Linked DNA regions of Homo sapiens. The protein of the gene in region 2 interacts with the protein of the main gene of each other region in a pairwise test. Each region holds a gene or a part of one and is shown on either strand. Other genes may lie near its edges. The genes, in order: BOK, GDAP1, IQSEC1 and DDX20.

What was found.
Region 1: the proteins of GDAP1 (region 2) and BOK interact in binary tests that used the Homo sapiens proteins (3 or more experiments, as listed by UniProt).
Region 3: the proteins of GDAP1 (region 2) and IQSEC1 interact in binary tests that used the Homo sapiens proteins (3 or more experiments, as listed by UniProt).
Region 4: the proteins of GDAP1 (region 2) and DDX20 interact in binary tests that used the Homo sapiens proteins (3 or more experiments, as listed by UniProt).

Annotation. Positions count from the first base shown.
Region 1 is NC_000002.12:241,554,691-241,561,788, reverse strand, and holds the start of BOK (bcl-2-related ovarian killer protein), read right to left. Parts: upstream 3,045-7,098; 5' UTR 2,796-3,044; exon of another isoform or gene 2,646-2,795; intron 2,571-2,645; exon of another isoform or gene 2,335-2,570; 5' UTR 2,306-2,334; coding exon 2,086-2,305; intron 1,719-2,085; exon of another isoform or gene 1,525-1,718; intron 1-1,524.
Region 2 is NC_000008.11:74,353,399-74,360,450, reverse strand, and holds part of GDAP1 (ganglioside-induced differentiation-associated protein 1), read right to left. Parts: intron 315-7,052; coding exon 141-314; intron 1-140. UniProt on the Homo sapiens protein: Regulates the mitochondrial network by promoting mitochondrial fission.
Region 3 is NC_000003.12:12,909,417-12,916,468, reverse strand, and holds part of IQSEC1 (IQ motif and SEC7 domain-containing protein 1), read left to right. Parts: intron 1-735; coding exon 736-875; intron 876-1,335; coding exon 1,336-1,365; intron 1,366-2,915; coding exon 2,916-3,041; intron 3,042-4,740; coding exon 4,741-4,840; intron 4,841-7,034; coding exon 7,035-7,052. UniProt on the Homo sapiens protein: Guanine nucleotide exchange factor for ARF1 and ARF6. Guanine nucleotide exchange factor activity is enhanced by lipid binding. Accelerates GTP binding by ARFs of all three classes.
Region 4 is NC_000001.11:111,765,901-111,768,500, reverse strand, and holds the end of DDX20 (probable ATP-dependent RNA helicase DDX20), read right to left. Parts: coding exon 1,602-2,600; 3' UTR 501-1,601; downstream 1-500.

The DNA.
Region 1 (7,098 bases), on a different chromosome or scaffold from region 2:
TCCTGGGCCACCCGCACTGCCACGCTCCCACCTGGGCTGGCTGGGCCGCTGTCCTGGGCCACCCGCACTGCCACGCTCCCACCTGGGCTGGCTGGGCCCCTGTCCTGGGCCACCCGCACTGCCACGCTCCCACCTGGGCTGGCTGGGCCGCTGTCCTGGGCCACCCGCACTGCCACGCTCCCACCTGGGCTGGCTGGGCCCCTGTCCTGGGCCACCCGCACTGCCACGCTCCCACCTGGGCTGGCTGGGCCGCTGTCCTGGGCCACCCGCACTGCCACGCTCCCACCTGGGCTGGCTGGGCCCCTGTCCTGGGCCACCCGCACTGCCACGCTCCCACCTGGGCTGGCTGGGCCGCTGTCCTGGGCCACCCTCACTGCCACGCTCCCACCTGGGCTCTTGCTGCCAAGGGGATGTGCTTGGAGGTGGCACTGCATCAGCCCTGCCCCTGGCAGCCGAGGATGGCCCCTACAGGCCCACCGCCCCAGTGCTGCCTGTGGCACCCTTGGCAGCAGCAGCGCACAGGCACGGGGCAGATGGTGCCGAGAATGCCACAGGGCCCTGGGATTGGGAGTCCGCAGCCCGGCCAGTTCTCCAGCCAAAGCAAACAGGGTAATGCTGCTGACCGGACCATCCCAGCTGATAAAGGCTGCTCTGTATCTCATTAATTAAGATCTGGAAGCAGAGCAGAGCCCATGAGAGGCTGGCTGGGGGCGGGGGACGACATGGAAATTCCCAGGACTGACCCGGCAGCTCCCAAACACAGATCTCCGGGGCTGCTGCAGGCTGGCCCCAGACTGAAGGTGGGGACACAACCCGGGCTTCTTCCTGTCTGCACTGCCCAAGGGCAGGGAGACAGCGCTGGCCTCAAGGGACTGACCCTGAGCAGCCGTGAGGGCAGATGCAGGTCTGAGCTGTGTCCCTCTGGGGTCCCCCTAGACATCTGGGACTTCTTCCCAGCCATTCCAGGGGTCTGGCATCATCTTTTCAGAAGGCCACTAAAAGGATCCCCTAGGGTCATTCTCAGAGCCCGACTAGAGGCAGCAGCAGGCGGCGGATCTCATGGAGCCCCACCAACCCCCTAGCTCCCACCCAGAGACCTCTCCCTCCTTCTGAACTTCTCAGATGGGACTCCACCTCCTCCTGGAGGCTCTGTGCTGGTCCCCATGGATTCTGTCTGCACCCCACACACACTCCTGGGCAGGCCAGGTCTACACAGCTTTGCTCTCTGGGCCCAGCCCACCACGTAAGGGCAGGGGCCACCTAGAGCCCATGCCAGCGCCAGCCTGAGAGGAGGCAGCGTGTCCCCTCACGGGGTCGTGCCCTCCGACTCCAACCCCCTGCCTGGAGAGCCACCGATTCAGTTTCACCTATGCTGTCACCTCCCCTTCCCGGGCTCAGCCACAGGCGCCCCATGTGCCCTCTTCGGGCATCACATAAACATTCCCAGGTGACGGCCACAGCCCAGCTGTGGTGAGGGGACTGGACAGTCACAGTGGGGCTGGTCCCTCCCTCTTGGGTCCAGACCTTGGAGACGGTGGGGGCAGCCAGTGGACCGTGTGTGACCCCAGAACCGAGCACCCCCAGATGTCCTCACAGCACCAACGAATACTGAGGTTTTGGCTACCCAGCCCGGTGGGCGCAGTTTCCAATGGGGGGGCCTCGGAGGCCTCGGAATCCAGAGGGCAGCGGGCGGGATCTCGGCCAGTAACAGCAAGAATCTGTTTTCCAAAATAAACATCGGGACACGTGCTCCTACAAAGGGTTTCTGTGCCCAGCTGAGAACAAGGGTCACTGTGGAAGCTTAGCCACCCACTAATAGATTATTCTTTCTGGAGCTTTCTATTGTTTATGGCCAGCATGACTGAAATCTGGGCTGAGCAGGCAGCTGATGGGGGGGCCTGTGGCGTGGGAGGCCTGAGAGGGCAGATCCGGGAGCACCCGCCTGGGTGGCCCTGTCCCGAGCGCCTGGCCGTCCCAGGCAGGGGGTGGGCGCCCCTGGGCCGGACCCCCATCTCGGCCTCGGAGGGAGGCTGCGGCCCAGCAGGGGAGGAGGCGCAGCTGGGGATCCCACCAGGGCGCACTCACCCAGGCGCAGCAGCACCGCGCACACCTCAGCCAGGCGTCCCGGGACCGGCGCGGCACGCTCGGGCGCGCTCCAGGAGAGGCCGGCGCGCAGCAGCCGCGCGTGCACGTACTCCCGGCCCAGCGCCTTGGCCTGGGCCACCAGCTCCTTGTCTGTGGGCGAGCGGTCAAAGGCGTCCATGATCTCGGCGGCGAAGACCGAGGAGCGCCGCAGCACCTCCATGGCGGCGACGCGGGTGGGGGGCGCCGCACCTGCGGGCACAAGCGCTCAGCCGGGTGGAGGGAGGCGGCGCGGGGAACGGGGCGCGCGGGGCGCCGGGCTGGGCGTGGCCCTCGGGAAGGGCCGTAGCCGGCGCCGGGTCCGCTCTCGTTTTTTGTGCCCCAAATCTTTAAAAACCCAGCGCCACCTTCTTTCAGAGCCCGAATTCAGCTACAGACATTCCCCGAGGCTGCCAGGGACCGGTGGGGCCGCGGGGAGACGGCGGTTTGCTCCGGGGCCGCCGGGCCCGCCCTCGAAGACGAGTGCGTGGGCGGCGGGGGCGGAGGGCACAGCCCAGCGCGTCCCCCACGGCGACTGCCAGGACCCGGCCCTCCCCGCCCCGGCCCGGGGCCGCCCACCTCCGCCGCTGGCGTCCTGCGCGCGTGTCCCCGGCCTCGCCGTTCCCGTGGCACCCCGGGCACCCCGGCACGGACGCCACGCCCGCCGCGCTCACCTCTCCCGCCGCATGGCGCGGGCGCCGGGGTGGAGTTCTGGCTTCAGGATCTGCTCGCCGCCGACGACGACCTCGACCCTTCCATTCAGACCCGCGAGGACGCGCGCCCCGCCCCGGCGCCCGCCCCGTCCACGCCCGAGCCGGGAGCGCCAGGTCCACGGGGCTTCCCGCGCTCTTGGGGGGCTCCTGCCGCGGCGTCGGGGGCCTGGGCAGCGAGGTGGGCAGCGCGCGACTCCCAGCTGGCGAGAGGCTGGGCTTGGGGCTTGGCCTTCTAAGGGAAAGGCAACCCTGGGGGCGGAGTCGGGGAGACGCTTTCCGAGCTTCCCCGCTTAAGGAGGACCGAGCGAGTTCCCTGGATGCGCCCGGAGAAGGCGACCAGGCCGGAGCGGCCCCCGCAAGGCAGAGCAGTGGGGACCTAGAGCCAGCCCCAGCCGCCTGGGTGTTCCCCGGGGTCCATTTGAAAATTGGGTTGTCTTCTTCGTTCGTAGAGGTTCTTTCCAGAGTCTGGAGACGTGTTCTTGGTCCGGACGCATGCCCTTTGTATTGTAGATGGATTATTGGATTCGCATTTATTGAAGTTATTGCAAATATCTTCCTCTATTTTGTGGTTTACTTTTGCTTTGGATGAACAGGAGTTACTCTTAGTGATGTCCAATTTATCAATATTTTCTTTATGGTTAGTACCTTTTTATTGGGATATCCTCCTGTATTTCCTTTTAGAAGCTTGTTTTAGGGCTCATATTTAGATCTATGATTGATTACATATTAATTATTGTGAATGGTGTGGTACGGGGCTAGAGCTCATTTTTTTTCGTGTAGATATCCAATTGACCTGGCATCATTTATTGAAAAGCATCATTTTTTTTCCACCGAATTGGAGGAGTCCCCAACATCTCAACATAAATCAGCTGAAGAGTGTGTGTGTGTGTGTGTGTGTGTCTCGGAACTCTATCCCACTGGTTTATTTCTTTATCCTTGAATCAACCTCACACAGTTTGAACAATAGGATTAACCAACTTGGCCTAATTCACGTGTGTACAACACTATAAAATACTTATTCTTCCCATGTGCACATAGGATGTTTATCGAAATAGACCATATCATGGACCTTATACAAGTCTCAGCAAATCTCAACGGATTGAAATCTTACAGTGTGTCCTCTCTGAATTAAAAGTCAATAACAGAAAAATTACTGGAAAATCTGCAAATGCTTGGAAATTACATGTCACACTTCTAAATAATCAATGGGTCAATAATCACAGTGGAAGATTAAAATATGTTGACAAGAACAGTGAAAAATAAGACATATCAAATGCTGTACAGTGCAACTAAAACACTGCTTAGAGGAAATTTGATAGCTTTAGAAGAAGGATTGAAAATTAGGCCAGGTGAAATGACTCAGACCTGTAATCCCAGCATTTTGGGAGGCCTAGGTGGGCAGATCACCTGAGCTCAGGAGTTTGAGACCAGCCGGGTCAAAATGGTGAAAACCCCGTCTCTACTAGAGATACAAAAAATGAGTTGGGTGTGGTGGCAGGTGTCTGTAATCCCAGCTACTAAGGAGGCTGAGGCAGGAGAATTGCTTGAACCTGGGAGGCGAAGGTTGCAGTGAGCAGAGATCATCCCACCTGCACTCCAGCCTGGACAACAGAGTGTGATTCCATCTCAAAAAAAAAAAAAAAAAAGGAAAAAGAAAAATAAAATTACTGCTCTAAGCTTCCACTCAAGAAGCTAGAAAAGAACAATAAAACTAAAGATGAAAGGAAATAATAAAAATAAGAGCAGAAATTAATGGAATAAAGCAAAAAATAGAGAAAATCAACAAAGCCAAAAATTGGTTCTTTGAAGAGATTAATAGAACTGATAAATCCCCAGAAAGATTGAGTAAGAAAAAAGATAACACAAATTTCACTATCAAGAATGAAAAAGAGGACATCACTGTAGATACTACAAGCATTAAAGGGATAAAAAGATAGTATGGAGGACTTTTTGACAGTGCATTTGAAATTTTAGATGATACACAACTTACCAAAACTGACACTAAAAGAAATAGAAAATCTGGATAGTCCTACACCAATTAAATGCATTGAATCTGTAATTTAAAATCTTCCCACAAAGAAAATTCTAGGTTCAGATGGTTTCATTGAGAAATTCTTCTCAACAGTTAAAAAAATACCACCAGTCTCATACAAACCTGCACAGAGACTAAAAATGAGGGAGTATTTCCCAACTCATTTTATGAGGTCAATGTAATTTTAATACCGAAACCTGTCAGGAACATTACCAGAAGCTAGGAAAGCTATGGAACTTCTATCTGCTATGACTTTCCTGTCTGGGAAGTAGGAAGAATAATAATACCTACCTCCTAGGATTGTTGAGAGGACTGAATTCTTTTTTTTTTTTTTTTTTTTTGAGACGGAGTCTCGCTCTGTTGCCAGGCTGGAGTGCAATGGCGTAAACTCGGCTCACTGCAACCCCGCCTCCTGGGCTCCAGCGATTCTCCTGCCTCAGCCTCCCGAGTAGCTGGGACTACAGGCACCTGACACCACGCCCGGCTAATTGTTTGTATTTTTGGTAGAGAGGGGGTTTCACCATGTTGGCCAGGATGGTCTCGATCTCTTGACCTCGTGATCTACCTGCCTTGGCATCACAAAGTTCTGGGATTATAGGCGTAAGCCACAGCGCCCAGCCTGGGAGGACTGAATTCTTAATCCATGTCATGTAGTAAGTGCTCAGTCATTGTTAGCTGCTTTTTCAGAAAAGCTGTAGTACAGTAAAATCTGAGGGTGCATTTTAATGAACTCTTTAATGTAGAGTCTAGAGCTCCTTGGACAGTGTGCGCCTCAGATTTCTGAAGAGCAGTCAGGTTTGGGATTCCCTGTAGATAGCATTACAGAAATGCAGAGAGGGAAAAGATCTCGCCCAAGGAGTCACTGCAAGACTGGGCATGGCCAGACTGTAAACCTTGGGGTCTAACTCCATGGTTCCTGAAGTACCTCTGTCAGGGGAAGAGCCTGTACTTGCAGGCAGGAGACCAGGAAGCTCACACCTGCAACCTTCCCGCTGTGTAGCCTCAGGCAACTTCCTGCCCCATTCACAGGCTCAGTTTCCTCCTGTGCAGAATGAACTCATACTTCCTGCTTCCTGTCTCCTGTTGGAGCCGTCTCCTGGGCTCTGACATGGGGGTAGTGGGCCACTGGGCATAATTGATAGACATGTTCTGCATCCCAGGAGCTGCAGAAACCAGGTAAAGCTGTGTCTCTGGATGTTCAATATGGAACATTGCTAGCAGTAAGGAACTGAAAATGACCTAAGTGTGCCAGGCGTGGTGGCTCATGCCTGTAATCCCAGCACTTTGGGAGGCTGAGGCATGTGGATCACCTGAGGTTAGGAGTTCGAGACCAGCTTGACCAACAAGGTGAGACTCCGTTTCTACTAAAAATACAAAAAATTAGCCAGGCGTGGTGGCGCATGTCTGTAATCCCAGCTACTCGGGAGGCTGAGACAGGAGAATTGCTTGAACCCAGGAGTCGGAGGTTGCGGTGAGCCGAGCTCATGCCACTGCACTCCAGCCTGGGCAACAGAACGAGACTTTGTCTCAAAAAAAAAAAAAAATGACCTCAGTGTTTATGAAGAGATCAAGCCCAGCATGGTGACACCGCACTAGTAGTCCCAGCTCCTTGGGAGACTGAAGCAAGAGGATTGCTTGAGCCCAGGAGTTCAGGGCTGTAGTGCCTGTGAATAGCCACTGCACTCAGCCTGGGCAACTTAGCAAAGACGGGTTTCTAAAACAAATTTTAAAAAGAGAGCAGATGAGGAGATTAAGCAATCTGGAGTACCTAGACCGCAAACCCTTATTCAGACCTTAAAAAACTTGGGTCATGCTGGAGTTAGCTGAGGTCTTCCTGTCCACTGAGACCTGGAGGAGGCCCAGTCCCAGCCCTCAATTTCCCAAGAGTGCTTTGACTTCTTGGGAGCCTACATTTCTCCGGTCACCTTTGGCCCTGATTTTCTGTCTCTGCAGAACTCTTACATCCACTCTTGCCATGCAACTGACTCCTCTCTCTGCCCCAGTGTTGACCTAGCATGGAACTCGGTCCCTGGTTGGTGAGTGGGCTTCTGAGCGCTGATACCAGCCCACCAGACTGGCTTAAGCACAGGGCAGTTTGTTGATTTGTGTGACCAGAGAGAGGTCGGTTGGTTTCAGGCATAGCTGGATCCAGGAGTCTCTTTCCATCTGTGCTCCCCTGTGATGGCTCCACTCTCAGACAGACTGTCCTGGTGTAATTGCAGGATAAAGCCC
Region 2 (7,052 bases):
CCATAACATGCACATCCATGAAGCAAACTCAACAACCCTATTCCCAATCTTCTTTTAGTGACCATGAGACATGCTAGGTCTCAAAATGAATTAAAAGAAAGTGTCAGACAGAATTCCAGGTCTTTAAAATGTTTACATACTACGAATCCTTGTAGTTGCATAAGCCGGGATCATGGAGTCCACAGTTAACTCAGGATGTAAAATGCAGCCATGTGTATAGGCATCCATTGGCAAGGAGTCAAGCAGCTCTCGGTAATGTTGTACCCGTGGGTAATACATGCTTTCTTTATCAGGCATTAACCTGGGTGTTCTTTCTAAAATACACACACACAAATATTGAAGAAAAAGTTACACATGAGTTGTTACACTCAAAAGCAAAACAAAAACACTATCCACTCATCATTAACATTTTCAACATATCTGTATATTCAAAAAACACTGTCTCCTCACCTCAGACATTCATTCAAAGTTTGAAATGGCCTGATGCACCAGACAAGATCCCAAACCATAATCACATTGGTATTCTCTCATTTCTTCACCTTGCAAACTGCACTCAGCCCTCAAGGCCCAGTTATTTATGCCATTTATTCCATGAAGCATTCCCTAACCTCCTACAACTGCCAACATCTGACTGGCTCACATGTGCCTTCTTCTATACATCCATAACACATTACACACACTCTGTTACAGCCCTTATCACACTGTAATTCATTGCATCTTTTTTCCCCATGACTGTCTTCAGGGAAAGGAACCTGCAATCCAGAGTCTAGCACAGTTCTCCACACACTTGAGGCCCTCAATAAAGTTTGGTTAATTGAATGAGGGCTCATTATGGAAAGATAATCAGGGGCTACTCTTTTCTAGGTGCCAACCAACATCAAGAGTGACCCTACTGACACATGTGAATGTGAATGACAATCTATATGGAACAGGAAAGGCCTTTGCTCAAATATCGCAGGTGCACTTTCCCCAGGAATTTCTAACAATTATCTCTGGAAAGTGGGTTCTACATACATCCTTATTTGCTAGTTAAAATCCAAACTGTAGAGTCCTTGAGGGCAGGGACCATGTACTGCTCTCTGTTAAATCCCCAGTGCCTAGTATAATGTTTGACATGTAGTAGGTGTTTAATAAATTACAATGAATACATTCCAAAATTTCCAATTATTATATAGATTACTTGAGCTGGAGAAGTGCTGCAGGAGTTAACATGTACACTCAGATACAAGGGCTGAAAATTTCTCCCAAGATCCCACAGCTAATTAGAGGCAGAGCTAGAACTAAAGTCATCTGATTCCTAATGTAATGTTCTCTTTGATTATACCATCATAACATTTTCAAAGGATTTTCATTTCATAGACTATCGAAAAAGAATAAAAGTGAAGGATGCAACCCAAAGGTCAGGGCTATGTCCCTTCAGAATCTCTTCCTATCTCTGGCTGTCAAACTGTCCCTAAAAAATGTCAGGTCTAATAACTATCACAATTTCAAAATATTAAGATATCTGCAATAACTTAACCATGAACATATCTGTGAGTTCTATTGGTTATCAAAGCCAGAAGCACTCCTGATATTGCCATGGATTGTGCCTACATTGCTAATGGAAGGAAATAATTCCTTTAAATAGAGATACAATTATTCCCTATCCAAGATCTCAAATCTCCTGAATTCTATTCATAAACCCCTAAGCGCAACAGTTCTCACACTATGGTCTGAGGATCCCTGGGTTTTCCTAAAACATGTTTGGGGGATCTACAAAGATATTTTTATAGAAATACTAAGACGTTAATTACTTTTTCACTCTTATTCTCTCTCAAGTGTACAGTAGAAGTTTCCAGAGGCTACAGGAAACATGACTCTATCACTCTGACAGCTAGTGGGATTGTGCTTAACCAGGCTAATATTTTAAGTTTTCTCAGTTTTGCTTTCTAAATGGTAAATATTGATAGCTATGATCCACATAAACAAATGCTCTCTGGTATCCTCAAAGACAAAGGGGTATAGAGACCAAAAAGTTTAAGAACTAATGCTTTAGGGGTCCAAGAACCTCAGGCTAATAACCCTAAATAGTACATTTTCAAATGCTTCCCAAAAGGTCCAAGTAATGGCTAGTGGCTCTGGCTGCTTTCTGGTACTGGGCCCTGGGGCTTCTCTCCAGAAGAGCATACCATTTCCTTCCTAGGAAAGTGAATGAGAGCAGGAAAAACAATGTCTAATTGCTTTCTGGGGAAGATCCATCAGGCCAAGCCCAAATTCTTCAAGGAGGACAAATGTTTAAATCCATGAAAATAATTTTCTTCTACTCAGTGTGCCGTTACTGTCTAACCATTTCCTGAAGCACTCTGTCAGAGCATGAGATACCCACTGAACCCAAGTTATCTCCCCATCTCTCTTTCTTTGTGCGCATCAAGCATGCCCTCTCCAGTATCACAGGGGCACTGCGCTGCCATCCTCACACTGAAGCACAACAGTATCTGCTGCTTCTGATAAAAGAGTTTTTCAAAGGAAAACTGGGAATTTCCTTTGAATTATAGAGGAGATCTTCCCTCTCAATCCCATCCTATTTTATTTTCCAGTTCTTCCGTAGAGTACCTTTATCAAAATACCAAAAGCAAGAATTTTTTTCTCAGTAATGTACCTCAATCAGGAGTGGGAAAGCAACATAAGGCATAGCGGGGCAGGACAGAGAATTAGGGAGTTTTAAGAAGCAGGCAATGAGAGGAGGTCCCAGCATTGGGGAGTGGGATTGCAACAGTGGAAATGAGGCTTGGTATTAAGCTAGAAGAACAAATAAGTTGGCACAAGATCCGACTTGCCGGAAGAACTGAGTAGGGGAAAAGTTTTATATTACACATAAATTTAGGCAGCAAATTATAAACCAGCAGATAGACATAAAGCAGAAAGATTTGATAAACAGCAGAGGAAACCAAAAGAAGCAAAAAATAAAATCAGAAAGAAACAATAAAAGCATTCTGCAGCCATGTAATGGAGACAAATGGGCCTCTACATTCTCAAGTCCCTGTAATGCTGAGTAAAATAACAATGGCTCTGAGCCATTTTTTTAAATTACATTTGGTTTTCCCAAGAGTAAAACATAAAAAGAAATTAGGGGCTTAAAGGCATAAGTTTTCATTATTTTACAAAATTCACTACTCTGGTTACCCATCTTTCCTAGTAAAGGCAGATAAAGGAGGCATTATTATGCCTTGTTTTCAAGAAAGACTCCCCTAGGTCTACTTGTACAACTTTCAAGTCTCCCTTACTACTAGCTCAATGGAAACAGATTAGATTTCATTCCTCACTCTAGCCCTTTGCTGTTTATTTTACTTAGACTGTATAGTGATTGCATCAGTATATAATATGCATAATACAGCTGAATAATATTGTACCCTTCAACTAGTCACACACTAGGCTATTTTTAAAAAATTCAATAATAGGCTGGGCACGGTGGCTCATGCCTGTAATCCCAGCACTTTGGGAGGCCAAGGCAGGCAGATCACGAGGTCAGGAGATCGAGAGACCATCCCGGCCAACATGGTGAAACCCCGTCTCTACTAAAATACAAAAAATTAGCCGGGCGTGGTGGTGCGCGCCTATAGTCCCAGCTACTCGGGAGGCTGAGGCAGGGGAATCGCTTGAACCCAGGAGGTGGAGGTTGCAGGGAGCCGAGATTGCGCCACTGCACTCCAGCCTGGTGACAGAGCGAGACTCCGTCTCAAAAAAAAAAAAAAAAATATATATATATATACACACACACAAACACACACACACACACACACACACACACACACTAAATAATATTAAACAATTAAGTTATGACCTGAGGCAAAAGATATGGTAGCAAACTGATTGATTACAATTCAGTGCTGTCATAACTCTTGAACTAGAAAGAGCAAATCTAAATACAGATAAGAAAAAAAACAAAAAGACCCGGTGTCAAATTATATCAGTTCACTGTATGCATCCAGGATTTTGAGACAAATTTATAGCATTATTGTCAATAAATTTTATGCACTATACATTAAATGTTTAACTACTTTTAACTGGTATTACAGTTAAGACTTTTAACAGAAACATTTTTAATGATGGAAGCAAAAATTCCTTTATCAGACAGTTTGTTCCAATTGTTAGATACATATTATATAGAAAGAGGGCCTCTGAATTTTAATACCCCCAACCTGTCTGCTAAAACTGGACAAATCACAAAGAGAAGAAAAGTTACTTTTTAAAGCAACTTTTACTGACACAATAATCAAAGACTGATATTCTTTTCCATGCCATATGGTATATTTTCTCCACATTTTGTGCTAATCTGCAATTTCAGTATATGTGCTAAAAGGCCTATATTCAACTATATACAAGAGCCTTTTCTTGATGAACACAAATATAAATATTAATTGGTAATTCCTTAAATAACTATTTTTAATATAACAGTGACATCAGAATTAACGTTCTTTTTTAAATGTTACATTTGATGAAATTCAAATGTAACATTTAAATGTATTTTATAAATAACATTGTATCTATAAATTTAGATATCCTAATAAGATTTACGTGATTTTAATATCATACTAGAATAGTTTATTTCCAAACTAAATTCTATTTCCTAAGAATAAATTATATATCTAGACATAAGACATGAACGTGATGTTCAGAGAACTGTTACATTAAATCACAAAAATCCATTATTCTTGATTCCAGGTTACCAGAGTTATTTGGTAGTAATACATATGTTCTAGTATTTTATAGTTATTCCATATAATTTTGATTAGTAGCCAAGTTAAATTTTATTTAAAGAGGTTATGAGTACAATAGATAGATTGAAAAATCCACATTTGTGTGTACATTCACCTTGTCACATCCATTCTTTCTCAGTTTACCTAGTTTGCTTACTCTCATACCTTATCTAGCTTAATCAATTGCTTGCTGTAAAATAACTATTCCTCACCACATGCTCAGAGTTAAAGAGGTATCATGTACATGAAAGAGTCTATAAAACTGTACAGTAATAGCAAGTATATATGTTAAGGACAGATTTGGAATTATCAGCAAACTTATAGAAAGAAATTATCTTTGAAGACTAGCAAGCTGCTAATGATTTCGGATCTTTAAAACATCTCTGAAGTATCCCAGGACCCTATACCAAATTAATACCCAATAAATGGTTACTTAAAGAATAAATGAAGAGATAGCTCTCGGCCAGCTCTTAGTTTGGCAGTCAGGAGCATCATTCATGTCTATACCATTCTTCTGTATGACTGCTTTCCAAAAAAAAATCAAATACAGCCATTATCCAACAGATATTCACTATTTCAGGCTATGACTTGAAAAGGGTGACCTCAGCTACCAAACTACCAATTATTTAATGAACTATCCCGAAAGTACAAGGATAGAAATATGTAAATGTAAACAAAAAAGTTGAAAAATGTTTCTAGATCAGCAAGTCATCGTTTTTCGCATAATCCCCACTGGATCGATAACAAGGGACAGCAAATAACAGTGAAGGACATACTGGTTCACTACATTCTGTTCTTTAGAGGAATGGCTACACTTACAGTCTCCTGTCATGACCATGGGCGACTGCACACCTCATGAAATCCATCCACTTATTCTATCTCATCAACATTCCTCAAAGTTACATCCATAATTGGACAAAATGTCAACTATTCCAAACAGCTCAGAATGCAGAGGGTTACAACTCACCCTGTTCTCAACAAAATTTACAGTTTTCAAAGAACCTGAAATCACACTAGCCATTTGTTTTAACATTGGTAACTTACTATCTATTAACCAGGTTCCCCATTCTTTTGGAATGCAGCTGGTTTTTTAAAACAAAAGTCTCATGCCTATTTTCCTCATAGCCATTTTACATTTAGCCTTGTTAAACTTTATCTTATTTTTCCATTTTGTTGTATTTCCATAAGAAATATTTTATAAGCTAGTCATCACTTTGACTATTTACCTTTTCTGTCATTCACAAATGTAATCGTATTTCTTCCATGTCTATTCAAATCATTGATTTGTTAGGCTCAAGTCAAAAAAGAAGCCTACAAGAACATTACAAGGGATCCCTGTACAGGCTAACATCTGTTTCAATAATTTATTCATTTTAATCATTCAAAATATTTATTAAGCACCTATTAAGAAACATTCACTGTATAAGGCATTGGGGATAATTTTTCATAAGATACACTATTCCCAACCTCATGGTACTTACAGTGGTGTACAATTCAAACATTTAAAATAAAGTATAAAAACAATTATAAGTAAAATGAGAGTCTATAGTTGAAGAGGTAATCTGGTATGAGAAATCTATAAAGTAATATTCTTTAATATGGTAGTTTATTCATCTGCAAATGTGCGTTACAATCTTCTAGCTATATTTGCTCCTTTATTCCACAAGGGTATATGTAACGTAATCGCAAATGTTCTACTTAAATCAAGATATACTATATCTAGAACCATGCCTGGCACATAATAGACAGTTTTTTAGAAGTGTTAGGGACATTCTCCAGCAGTGTAAAACTTAAATTGGTTCCTTTCACTGAGATACACAAAAATTTTAACATATTTAAATAACTATTCACAATCTATTCTAAATTTCCACCAGATTTAAAGACAGTAATTTACACCAGTGCTTACTTAACTAAACACTAATTTATAGCAGTATTCTCAAACTTTAATGTACATACGAATCACATGGGGCTCTTGTTAAAACAAAGATTCTAATTTGATAGGTCTGCAGAGAGCTCTAAGGTTCTGCAGTTCTAACAAGCTCCCAGGTGACACCAATGCTGCTGATGAATGGAACATACAATTAGTAGCAAGGGTTGGTAGAATTCACTTTTCCCCGTCTTTGACAATAGGATGTTTGTCTATCTTGTCTGACTTTCATTCTCCATGAGTTCTTAAAGATAAAGCATCTTAATTATAATTGTGATAACGCTGTTTTTAAAATTTCAGTACTCTGAGATAAACTTCTTCTTGACCTCGATTTATATAACTTAGCCTTGATTTATATAAACTATTGTTCTCTTGCTGTCGTCCTATCT
Region 3 (7,052 bases), on a different chromosome or scaffold from region 2:
CCCATATGTATAAGGCTGTTTCTCTGCTCACAGCGGTTTTCAGAGTGGGGAGGAAGAAAGAAGCAGTGTGTGCTTGTGGTTAGGGCAGCCCCGGGTCAGAGCCCAGCCTCCAGCCTCTGCCCATGTGATGTGGGCCAGCAACAGCAACCACTGCAGCACTCCCACCGCTCAGATGCAGAGCTGGGCACGCCCCAGGCGCCCCTCGTTTCCTCACAACAAGCCTGTGCTGTGGGCAAGGTGTTTTAGAGGAGGACACCAAGCATGGTTGAGGCAGTCACTCGCCCATAGTCACACAGCTAGTAAGGGTGAAAGTAGGACGTGGCCCCAGGTCCATCGGAGCCCAAACAAACCCCAGCCTCCCTATACTCCAGCCTCCCCACACGTCAGCCTCAGTCTTCCCATCTGTGGAATGGAGATGATTATACCCACTTCGAAGGGCTGTGGTTAGCATGGAGCAGGGTAGCATTTATAAAGCCCTCTGAAAATGGCTTAGAGGTGGCTCAGCCCCTGACACCCATCGCCTACTAGACCGGGTCGGATGTATTGGGCCCGTTCTGGTAGGAGGACTGAGGAAATTTGTGTTGACTGAAAATGTCCTGTTGCTGTGGGCCTGCCTGGGAGTTCTTTGGTTCTGTTGGGTCTAGTGGAAGGTTCGCTCCTCTGATTTGCTTTAGAAACTGGTAAATCGAGTGAGCCTGGGGCCCACCCTGATATCCAGCTGCATCCCCTACCCAGGTGTGGACGATGGTGAGGACATTCCCCGTGAGATGCTGATGGGGATCTATGAACGGATCCGTAAGCGAGAGCTAAAGACCAATGAGGACCATGTGTCCCAGGTGCAGAAGGTGGAGAAGCTCATTGTGGGGAAAAAGCCGGTATGTGATGGGCCCTGGTACGTGGTGGGCCCCAGCACCACCCGGGCGGGGCTGCCTGCCAGGCCTTCTCACTCCCACCCACCCCACTCCGTGTGGTCTCTTCCAGCAGGGCTGGTGAATTCTGCCAGGGCTTGGGGTTTTTTCGAGTGTCTCCTGTCATATTTGGGAATAACAGCTATTGGCTCTGCGTTACAATCTGAAGAGAGCTGAGGCTCTTAATGATCTAGCAGGCCAGGGTTGTGCAGTGGCTGAGTTCTGGGCACCCGACACTGGCAGGCTTTCCTGGGTGGTCCAGGAGTCCCCTGGGACCCCTCAGAGAGCTCTGCCAGAGAGAGTGGGTACCCCACATACTGGCTGGGTGGATCCCAAGGGTAGGTGTAGGGAGGGGCACTTGCAGCATTGGCCTGGGCGTGGCTTTGAAACATGAACACCCTTTTGTTGGTTTCACATTCTCCCGCAGATCGGATCCCTGCATCCCGGGCTCGGCTGTGTGAGTATTTCTCTGGTTTTACCTTTGTGGGTAGCCCGCCGCCCTGGGGAGGCCCAGCATCAGCCAGTCCGCCGGCTCCCCAGGCTCCCAGAGCCCAAGTGCTGGCTGCTTGAGTTCATTGCTGGGGTGCTGAGAATCAGATGTTCGTAATTACCCCAGCCTCAGATCTCTGCAGGCCCTGAGGCTGTGCTGTCAGGGGAGACTCCTGCTCCCTCTTGTTGACGCCCTGTTGAGCCCAGCCCCCAGACCCTGCGCCTGAAACAGACCCCGGTGTGTCCTCTGAGGCCCTGCCCTGTCCGCTACCTGGCCCTGCTCTGTGCTCTGTCCCCCACATCCCATGCCCCAGGCTCTCCCAGTGCCTGCCTCCTCACCCCCAGGACCCGTCCTCTGCCATAGCTTTGTGGTGTGCCCACACGCCCCAGGACACATGCACACAGGGTGACTGGGCTGCTCACCATGACCCTCCTTGTGGACTGGCTTTGTCCCTCAGTCCTGAAAGCCGCTCTGCCTGCCCTCACCCTCCCCAGCTTCCCCTGCAAGAGACCAGTCCCCTCCCACCTCCAGCCAGTGCTCCCCGAACCCTCCCATCCTCTCTCCTTCATACCTTTGCAACCTAAGCACCCCAGGCTGGGCCACATTTTCCCCCTCATCTTAACCCCCAGATGTGCCAAACTCAGGCAGCCCTGGCCTAGAGCACCCCTGGTAGAGTCAAGCCTCTGGCCTCAGGACGGTGATCCCGGGGATCCCACCCCTTTGACCGCCTCCCCCATCCTGCATGAACCTGGGCACTCCCAGAGCCAGGCCCTGATGGCTCATCCCTCGCCCTGAGGCATTGGGCCTCAAGGGCAGCTGGAGCTATGACCGTGTTGGGAGCTTTCGTGAGCTGTCAGGGGCATGTTCAGGGTAGCTGTGGGGAGCAGAGGACGGGTCCAGGGCAAGTGCCACAGAGTGTTGGCTGCTGGCTCAGGATTTTGGAGAGTCTTTCAGGCATCAGGACCATAGGAATCTTTTATGGGGAGGCTTGGTTGGGTGGGAAAAGTCCTGGGGCCTGGAATTGGATCCTGGCTCTGCCACTTCCTAGTTTTGTCGTTACTTCTGTGCCTCAGTTTTTCCTCATCTAGAGCAGATTCTCTCTGTAAAGACTTTTGCAGGGCTGAGTGGCCTCATGTTTATGACCGGCACTTGTGGGGACTCAAAATGTGACTCGCTGTCTGGCCAGAGGCTCCCAGGTGAACGTGATAGTTTAAGAAGCCTGGTACCTGCCCAAAAGAATGGAAAGGAGGTCTCAGCAGAAGCTGGGGCACGTCCCTAGTCCTTCAGGAGAGCAGAGATACGGGATTTTAAATAGTGGCTCCTGAGAACAGAGTACGGGAAACTGCCATGAGCCAAAAGACGTATCTGCTCTTCAATGTCTGTGAGGGAAGGCATTTTTTAACTCAAGGCCCACGTGCCGGGTTTCTAGCTTGAAGGGCTAGACTTCTCCACTGCGGCCCCCAGGGCTCCTAGAGGAGAGCTGGGCGGCCGTGGCAGGACAGCCTCTTCCCACACAGGTGCTCTCTCTGCCCCACCGTCGGTTGGTCTGCTACTGCCGGCTCTTTGAGGTTCCAGACCCAAACAAGCCCCAGAAACTCGGACTACACCAGCGAGAAATCTTCCTGTTCAACGACCTCCTGGTGGTATGTGGCTCACCCACAAGGCATTGTAGCAGGGACCTCAAGCCTGAGCCCAGGGTCCATGTCTGGCTGTCTGCGTGGGGAAGATGTGCATGCATGTGGGGGTGCAAAAGGGAGGGTTTGCCTGGTGTCTTTCACACTGATGCACATGAAGACAGACTTCATTGGCTCATGCACAGGTCCAGAGGGAGATCTTTGGCTTTAGTACCAGCTGTTTCCAGAGCCTCTGCCAACGTCAGCAGCACTCCTGTGTGCTGTCTGCACCTGTACCTTGTGTGACGCTTCCTCGGGCAGGCCCCTTCCTCAGACAGGCTCTGTCCAGGAAGGGGAAGGTGGCCCCAGCAGCTCCAGACCTGATCCTGTCTGCTGAGCAACTGTAGAATCCTCTTCCTAGACTGAGCAGAGGTTGCAGAGTTAGCGCTTGTCGCTGCACATCCCTCCCTAAGCCTCTCCAGGCCAGGCAGGTGCAGTGCTTTCTGATTGGCTAGGCCTAGGTCCCAAGCCCCACCTCCTGGAGCCCTGAGCTGGTCCCTGCAAGACCTATGGACTGAAGGAAACAAGGGCTGGAGGTTTCCCCAAAAGGAAACTGGGGAGCTCTTGCCAGAAAAAAAGGTGGCATGGATGCTAGCCAGACGGGGGCAGAAGTGCCCACTGCAGAGAGAAGGGAGAGCTTGTCCTTTGGATTTCTGTACCCCTGCATGCCACGGGCTTTCTTGCCAAAGATGCCCATGTTCTTTTTTTTTTTTTTTTTTTTTTTTTTGAGACGGAGTCTCGCTCTGTCGCCCAGGCGGGACTGCGGACTGCAGTGGCGCAATCTCGGCTCACTGCAAGCTCCGCTTCCCGGGTTCACGCCATTCTCCTGCCTCAGCCTCCCGAGTAGCTGGGACTACAGGCCCATGTTCTTGATTGGGTATGAGGACTGGCTAACCCTCTCTGACCACTGATGTTGAAATCAGACGTGTAAGTTCAAATCCTTTATGAAGAACTCCTGACCTTGAGCGAATCCCTTCACATCTCTGAGCCTCAGTTTCCTCCTCTGTAAGATGAATCTCTCAGAAGGTGGCAGGGGTCCAGTGAGGTCCTGGACGTAAGACCTTACATGGTGCCTGGCATGCCCTGGAGACCGGGGAGATGTGAGCTCCCCTCTCCCCTCCCAGCCCAGCCTTTGGCTGCCACACTGGAAAGTTCCTTTCCTACTGTAGACCAGAATAGCAGCCAAGGACCGTGGCGGGCCAGCTGGGATTCAGGGATCACGTCGCTAGCCCAGGGGCCAGTCTCCCTGCAGGCCATCACCAGGCATAGCTTCACACTCTGGTTGTTCCCGAGAAAGGAAGCCATGGCTTCTTACCAAGGTCAGCGCTAGTGAGCACCACCTGTCCATTCCTGCCCCTCAAGGTGCCAAGCCCCGGGTGTGTACACCTCACCTGGCTGTGAGAAGGCACTTGAGGGGGCTCCGTGCTGTGAAGTGCCTACCGCCTCTATGTCAGGTTGTGGGGCTTTGTTGCCAGCCAAGATGGCATCGGGGTTGCGGGGACAGGAACCGTTGTCCGAGTCTTGGAGTGGAAGCCCATGCCCTCCACTCACGTGGGCTTGTCCCTGTCCTCCTGACTTTGAACTCCAGGAGGATCCTCTGACCAGAGGTCCCACATAGTCAGTGCCCCCCGAGACACTGTAGCTCAGCTCTGTCTCTGGCTGCCTCTAGGTCACCAAGATCTTCCAGAAGAAGAAGAACTCGGTGACGTACAGCTTCCGACAGTCCTTCTCCTTGTACGGCATGCAGGTCCTGCTCTTCGAGAACCAGTGTAAGTCTGCCCCCAGGGCCTGCCTGGAAGAGCGCATGTCCCAGCTTACGCTCTTTCTCCTGGCTGCTTCGAGGACAGAACCGCGGGGGGCTTCGACGCTCACCCCTGTTTTATCCCCAGAGAGCAGATTGCAGCTAGGAGCTCCGGTGAGCTGTAGGCACAGACCCTCAAGAGGCCCATCAGTCAGCTGAGCCTCATGTAATAACACTGGACAGACACTCAGTTTGCTTTTACTGGTACTTCGTTTCTTGCAGGTGATAAGATTTTTAAATTTATGGCAGAAATACATTTATGTAAATGTTGATAGAAAAACATTAAGTCATAGGTGATATGCAAACATGGCCCAGAACACAGGTGACAGCAACCCATGAGTGTCCGCGGAAGTGAAGAACTGAGCCCCTCAGCCTGGGTCAGATCCCAGCTCTGGCTCAACTGCTGTGTGGCCTGGCTCTGCAACCCCTCTGGCCTCTGTTGCCTGGGTTGTAAGGTAGTGCCTGCCACAGGGCCCCCATCATAGCTGCCGGAACACAGTGCTTTGCAAGGGTTAATTTTGATGCCCTGCTGGAAGGCCCTGGGTGAGGCCTGGGGACCTGGGAGTTTGGGAGGCTCACACCTGCAGCACCCCACTGGCTTCCATTTTACCTTGCTCCTTTCACTCTCCACGGCTTCTCTTCCCCCTCCTTTGTCCCTTCCCTGTTGGAGGCTGAGCCAGTCCTCCTGGGCTGGGGAGCAGGGGGCCACCTGGAGTGTCCTAGGGAAAGAAGCTGAGTGTCCGTGCTTGAGCAGTAGGGGTCCCTTATCCTCTCAGAACTAGGTGTCACTGTCTGTCTAATCAGCCTTCCATCTGCGGATTAGAACAGTGTCAGGGACCTGCAGCTGGACCATCCAAAACCACAGGCCTTGCGCCTGGATCTGGGGCTCTCTGTCCCCTTCAGTCTTCAGTGGGACCAGGGACAGCCCGGTAGGAGACCCTGCACTCCCTGTATGCCCTGCTCCCCACGTGCCCAACAAGGGGCATGGCATGCCTGCCCTGGCCGCCTCCCCACCTCCTGCCATTCCTGTCCCATCGCAGGCTGCAAGTCATGCCTTGCCTTGGTCCCAGGGGAGGCCAGTGCCATCCCCACATTGTCCTGACCAGCAGTAGCCTGCTCTCTGAGATGGTGGCATTGACCCCTGCTGCCCAGGGCTAGGGTGGGAACTTAGTGAGATCCTGGCAGCAAAGCTCCCAGCAGGGGGCCAGGACCACTGTGGACCATCAGGGCAGAGGCTGCACCTGGATCATGTCTATGGTCCCAGGGCTTGGCCTTAGATCGTGGGTGCCGGGTGCTGGCAAGAGCCAAGCCTGCAGCTTCTATAGGACATGCCGTCATTCCAGGGGTCTCAAACTGACAGCCTGGGAGGCAGGCCCAGCTCAGTTATCTTTTATATGGTTTGCATATTTTTAAAAAGTTTGCTGAGCCAGTCTCTACATCAAAATGTAGATATTTTGGGCCTCTCTGAAAATCAGAAGGTTTGGTGTCACTAGGCACATGTTCCCACGTGGCAGTAATGGGCTGCATATACATACATGTGCACACATATGCACACAGGAGCACTCTGCAGCTGCCCACAGGCCCACCTGGTCTGAGCCAAGGTGGGATTGGTACTTGGTCCAAGAACCTTCAAACATCCAGTGGCTGATGCTCTGCCAGTGACTCCCACTGCCGGAGCAGCACCGCCAGGAGACCAAAGCCCCAGGGACCCTGAGAGCCCGGAGGTGGCACCAGGCAGGTCTGGGCACAGGGTTCCTTGGCTGTGGAGTGCCCATAGTGCACCCCATGGGAGCTGTGGGCCACAGGCCATTCGGGAGAATATGGCGCTCACTGCTGTCCAGAACTGAGATGACTAGAGAAGACTCCCACCTTTCTCAGGACGCAACCTCTGTCCTCCTCCAGGACGCGGCCCCAGCAGCCTCCCCTGAGCTCGACCACTTTTGTCCCTGAGTCACATGTGGAGCGACACAGACCATCTTTCCCAAGTCGGGAGATGAGGTTGCTCTGCACCCCTGCAGCCTGCCACTGCGGAGGCTGGACTCCCGGCACTTATCCCAGGCTCACGCACAACTCAGCCCTACCATTGTTTCCTGACCAGAGAGGAGATTGCAGAGAACACACTGAGACCCGTGGGCCTCCTCCCCTCTCCTTCCCTTTTGCAGACTACCCCAATGGCATCC
Region 4 (2,600 bases), on a different chromosome or scaffold from region 2:
TAAAATCCCCCAGCAATGACAAACTGAACTTGGCTGTATTGTGGGGGAAAGGATGGAAAAAGTAAATTCAATTATATATCAATGACAGGATCTTATTTAAATGTGTAATTAAAATCTCTACTTCTTAATGACATACTGGACCTAATTATGGATTTGCTATCTACATTATTAATTAATTCACATACTGACACATGTAAGAAAAGCCTAATATTGCCCAATCCAAATGACAGGAATCCAAGTTAAGTAGGATTTTAGAATTGTGTTATGTAGGTGTTGGACAATAAATGACAATGGCTGTGGGTGTTTGCTGACAGCCCTGGGGAAAGTGTTTATACTACCTAGACAAGTATGTACACAGGAAAGAAGAGCTTTCCTTTTAAAAAGTGAATACACATCTCTCTACACAAGTGGTTCTCTCATAAAAAATCCAGTTCACAGAAAGGCTTGGGAACCAAAAGCTTAATCATAAAAGGATTTCCAGAGGAAAAAAGCAAAGAATATGTAATTTCCAATTATATTTTTCTAAATCGTAATTTACAGATGCATCAGCTCAGATCCAAGCTCCTCTTGGATCCTAACATTAGAGGTAAAAACTGGGGAAAATTTTCTAGAAGACACAAAATTAGGATGTACTAAGAAGTGTCTGAAGAGAATCAATTCCAGCTTCCACAAAATACTTAAAACTAAGAGCTAGAACTTCCCCTAGCCTACCAGCAGAGCAGGTCACTTGTTAATCTGGACTGTATAGATGAACTTCAGAGGGTCTATGAACCCCTTGAAATTACACTCACAATTCTGTGCTTATGGAATGAGAAATTTCCTGAAGTCAATCTATAGCTATCAGCTGATTCATAAAAGGATCCAAGAACCAAAAAAGATTAAGAGCTGCTCCTCTATCTGAGCAACACAAGTAAGACAGCAACTGATGACCCACAGCTATTTAATACACAGCAAAAATGTGGACAGCTTTCACAGCCTCAAAAGACATTCAAAAGATAAACAACAAACATGTAAATATATTTAAATTTGTTTTTACTAAAAACAAATATTTTTACTGGAAGCTAACAGATCAAATCAAATACCTTTAGGAAAATCTAAAGCAATGTTTAAATATTCCTTCCTGCCTAAAACCTAAGAGGATTTTCTGATCTACCATGCTACAAATTTCTACAAGAATGCACCTCTATAGAAGGAAATGCAGCCTAAGCCCTTTGTAAAGAACTCCACAGCAATAATATTACTAATCAAATCTATTGCTTTTATTGTTTTTAAGTAAGTGGTGGTATATGTCATCTTTTTAAATGTTTCTTTTGGGAAGATCTTATAGAAAATGGCACCCTGAAACTTTCAGCTCTATGTCCCAAAAATTATCTTTCAACAATCTGATGAAGTTTCTTAAAGAAACTCTTAAAAATGAAGATAATATACCTGGCCTAAATCAAAACAATCTGAAAAATGGATGTGTCCCAGTGGAAAGACTCAAGTCTTTTCAAGTTTATCAGAAATGCCACTATACACCACTGTACTATAAGTCGAGGAGGATGGATATCCAAAGGTATCATTTGTTGACAGTTCCTGATGGTCTCAGGTATATCCTATAATCACTGGTTACTATGCATCATTTCTTGTAGATAAATGGTATTCATGTGATAAGCTGCCATCCAACTTGGATGTCTCTGAGCATTCCAATAATATGAATGAGAAGCGGCAGCATAATATTCTTGCCATGCCCTGTAGTAAGCTCTCCAGTACTCCTCATAATCCTGATAGGTATCAGAAAAACTCAGACGTATTTCCCTATGACAGTCATACCAATCATCTTCCTGGGCTTCAGTCTGCAATCTGAAGGAAGACCGCCTGGGTAGGTTTCTCCGGCTCTGCTTAGCTCTCTGGCTAGCCCCCTCTTTAAGTCTTGTCTTCATCTGGATTCCAGGTGATTCTTGATATTTCTCTGGATTGGGGGTGTCACTTCCATTTGGTGGTTGTTCCAAAGAAATACGATCATCCACAGGCGTAGATTCAGAGTCTTTCAGCTGATTATCAGAAGAGCCTTCCAAGTATGACTTATTTCCTTTGCTCTGGGAAGAGGTTCTTGAGCTGTAAGAATCACTGTCACTCTCAGAGTCTCCAGATTGGCTACTACTTGCCAACACAGGGACTCTCTGTTCAATAACTTTATTTCTCACAAAACCATTTTGAGGATTCACAGTCTGATCCCCAGGGCCTGTGTAGTGCCTGATGATTTCCACAGGTTTCTCTAACCCCTCTTTAATATAATGTTCATAATCCTCTACCAATTCAGCAAAAGTCAACGTGTATGGCTGATGGATTTTAAAGGAAGACAGACAAGGAATCTGGGGGAGTGACACAGGTAAAGCTTCTTTGACCTGGTGCTGACTGTTGGTGGAGTTTTCAACGGGAGTCTGAACAGAATTCTTCATTTGCTCTTCGGATTGCCTGTCACAGCCCAGTTCTTTTGGTGACGTTGCTTTTTCTATGATTCCACATTCTGAGTGGCTTTTCACAGGAAGCTTTTGTTTGGTATTATTTTTTGATTTGACTGATAGTCCAGATACAGAATTATTTCTAGAGGAAGCCAT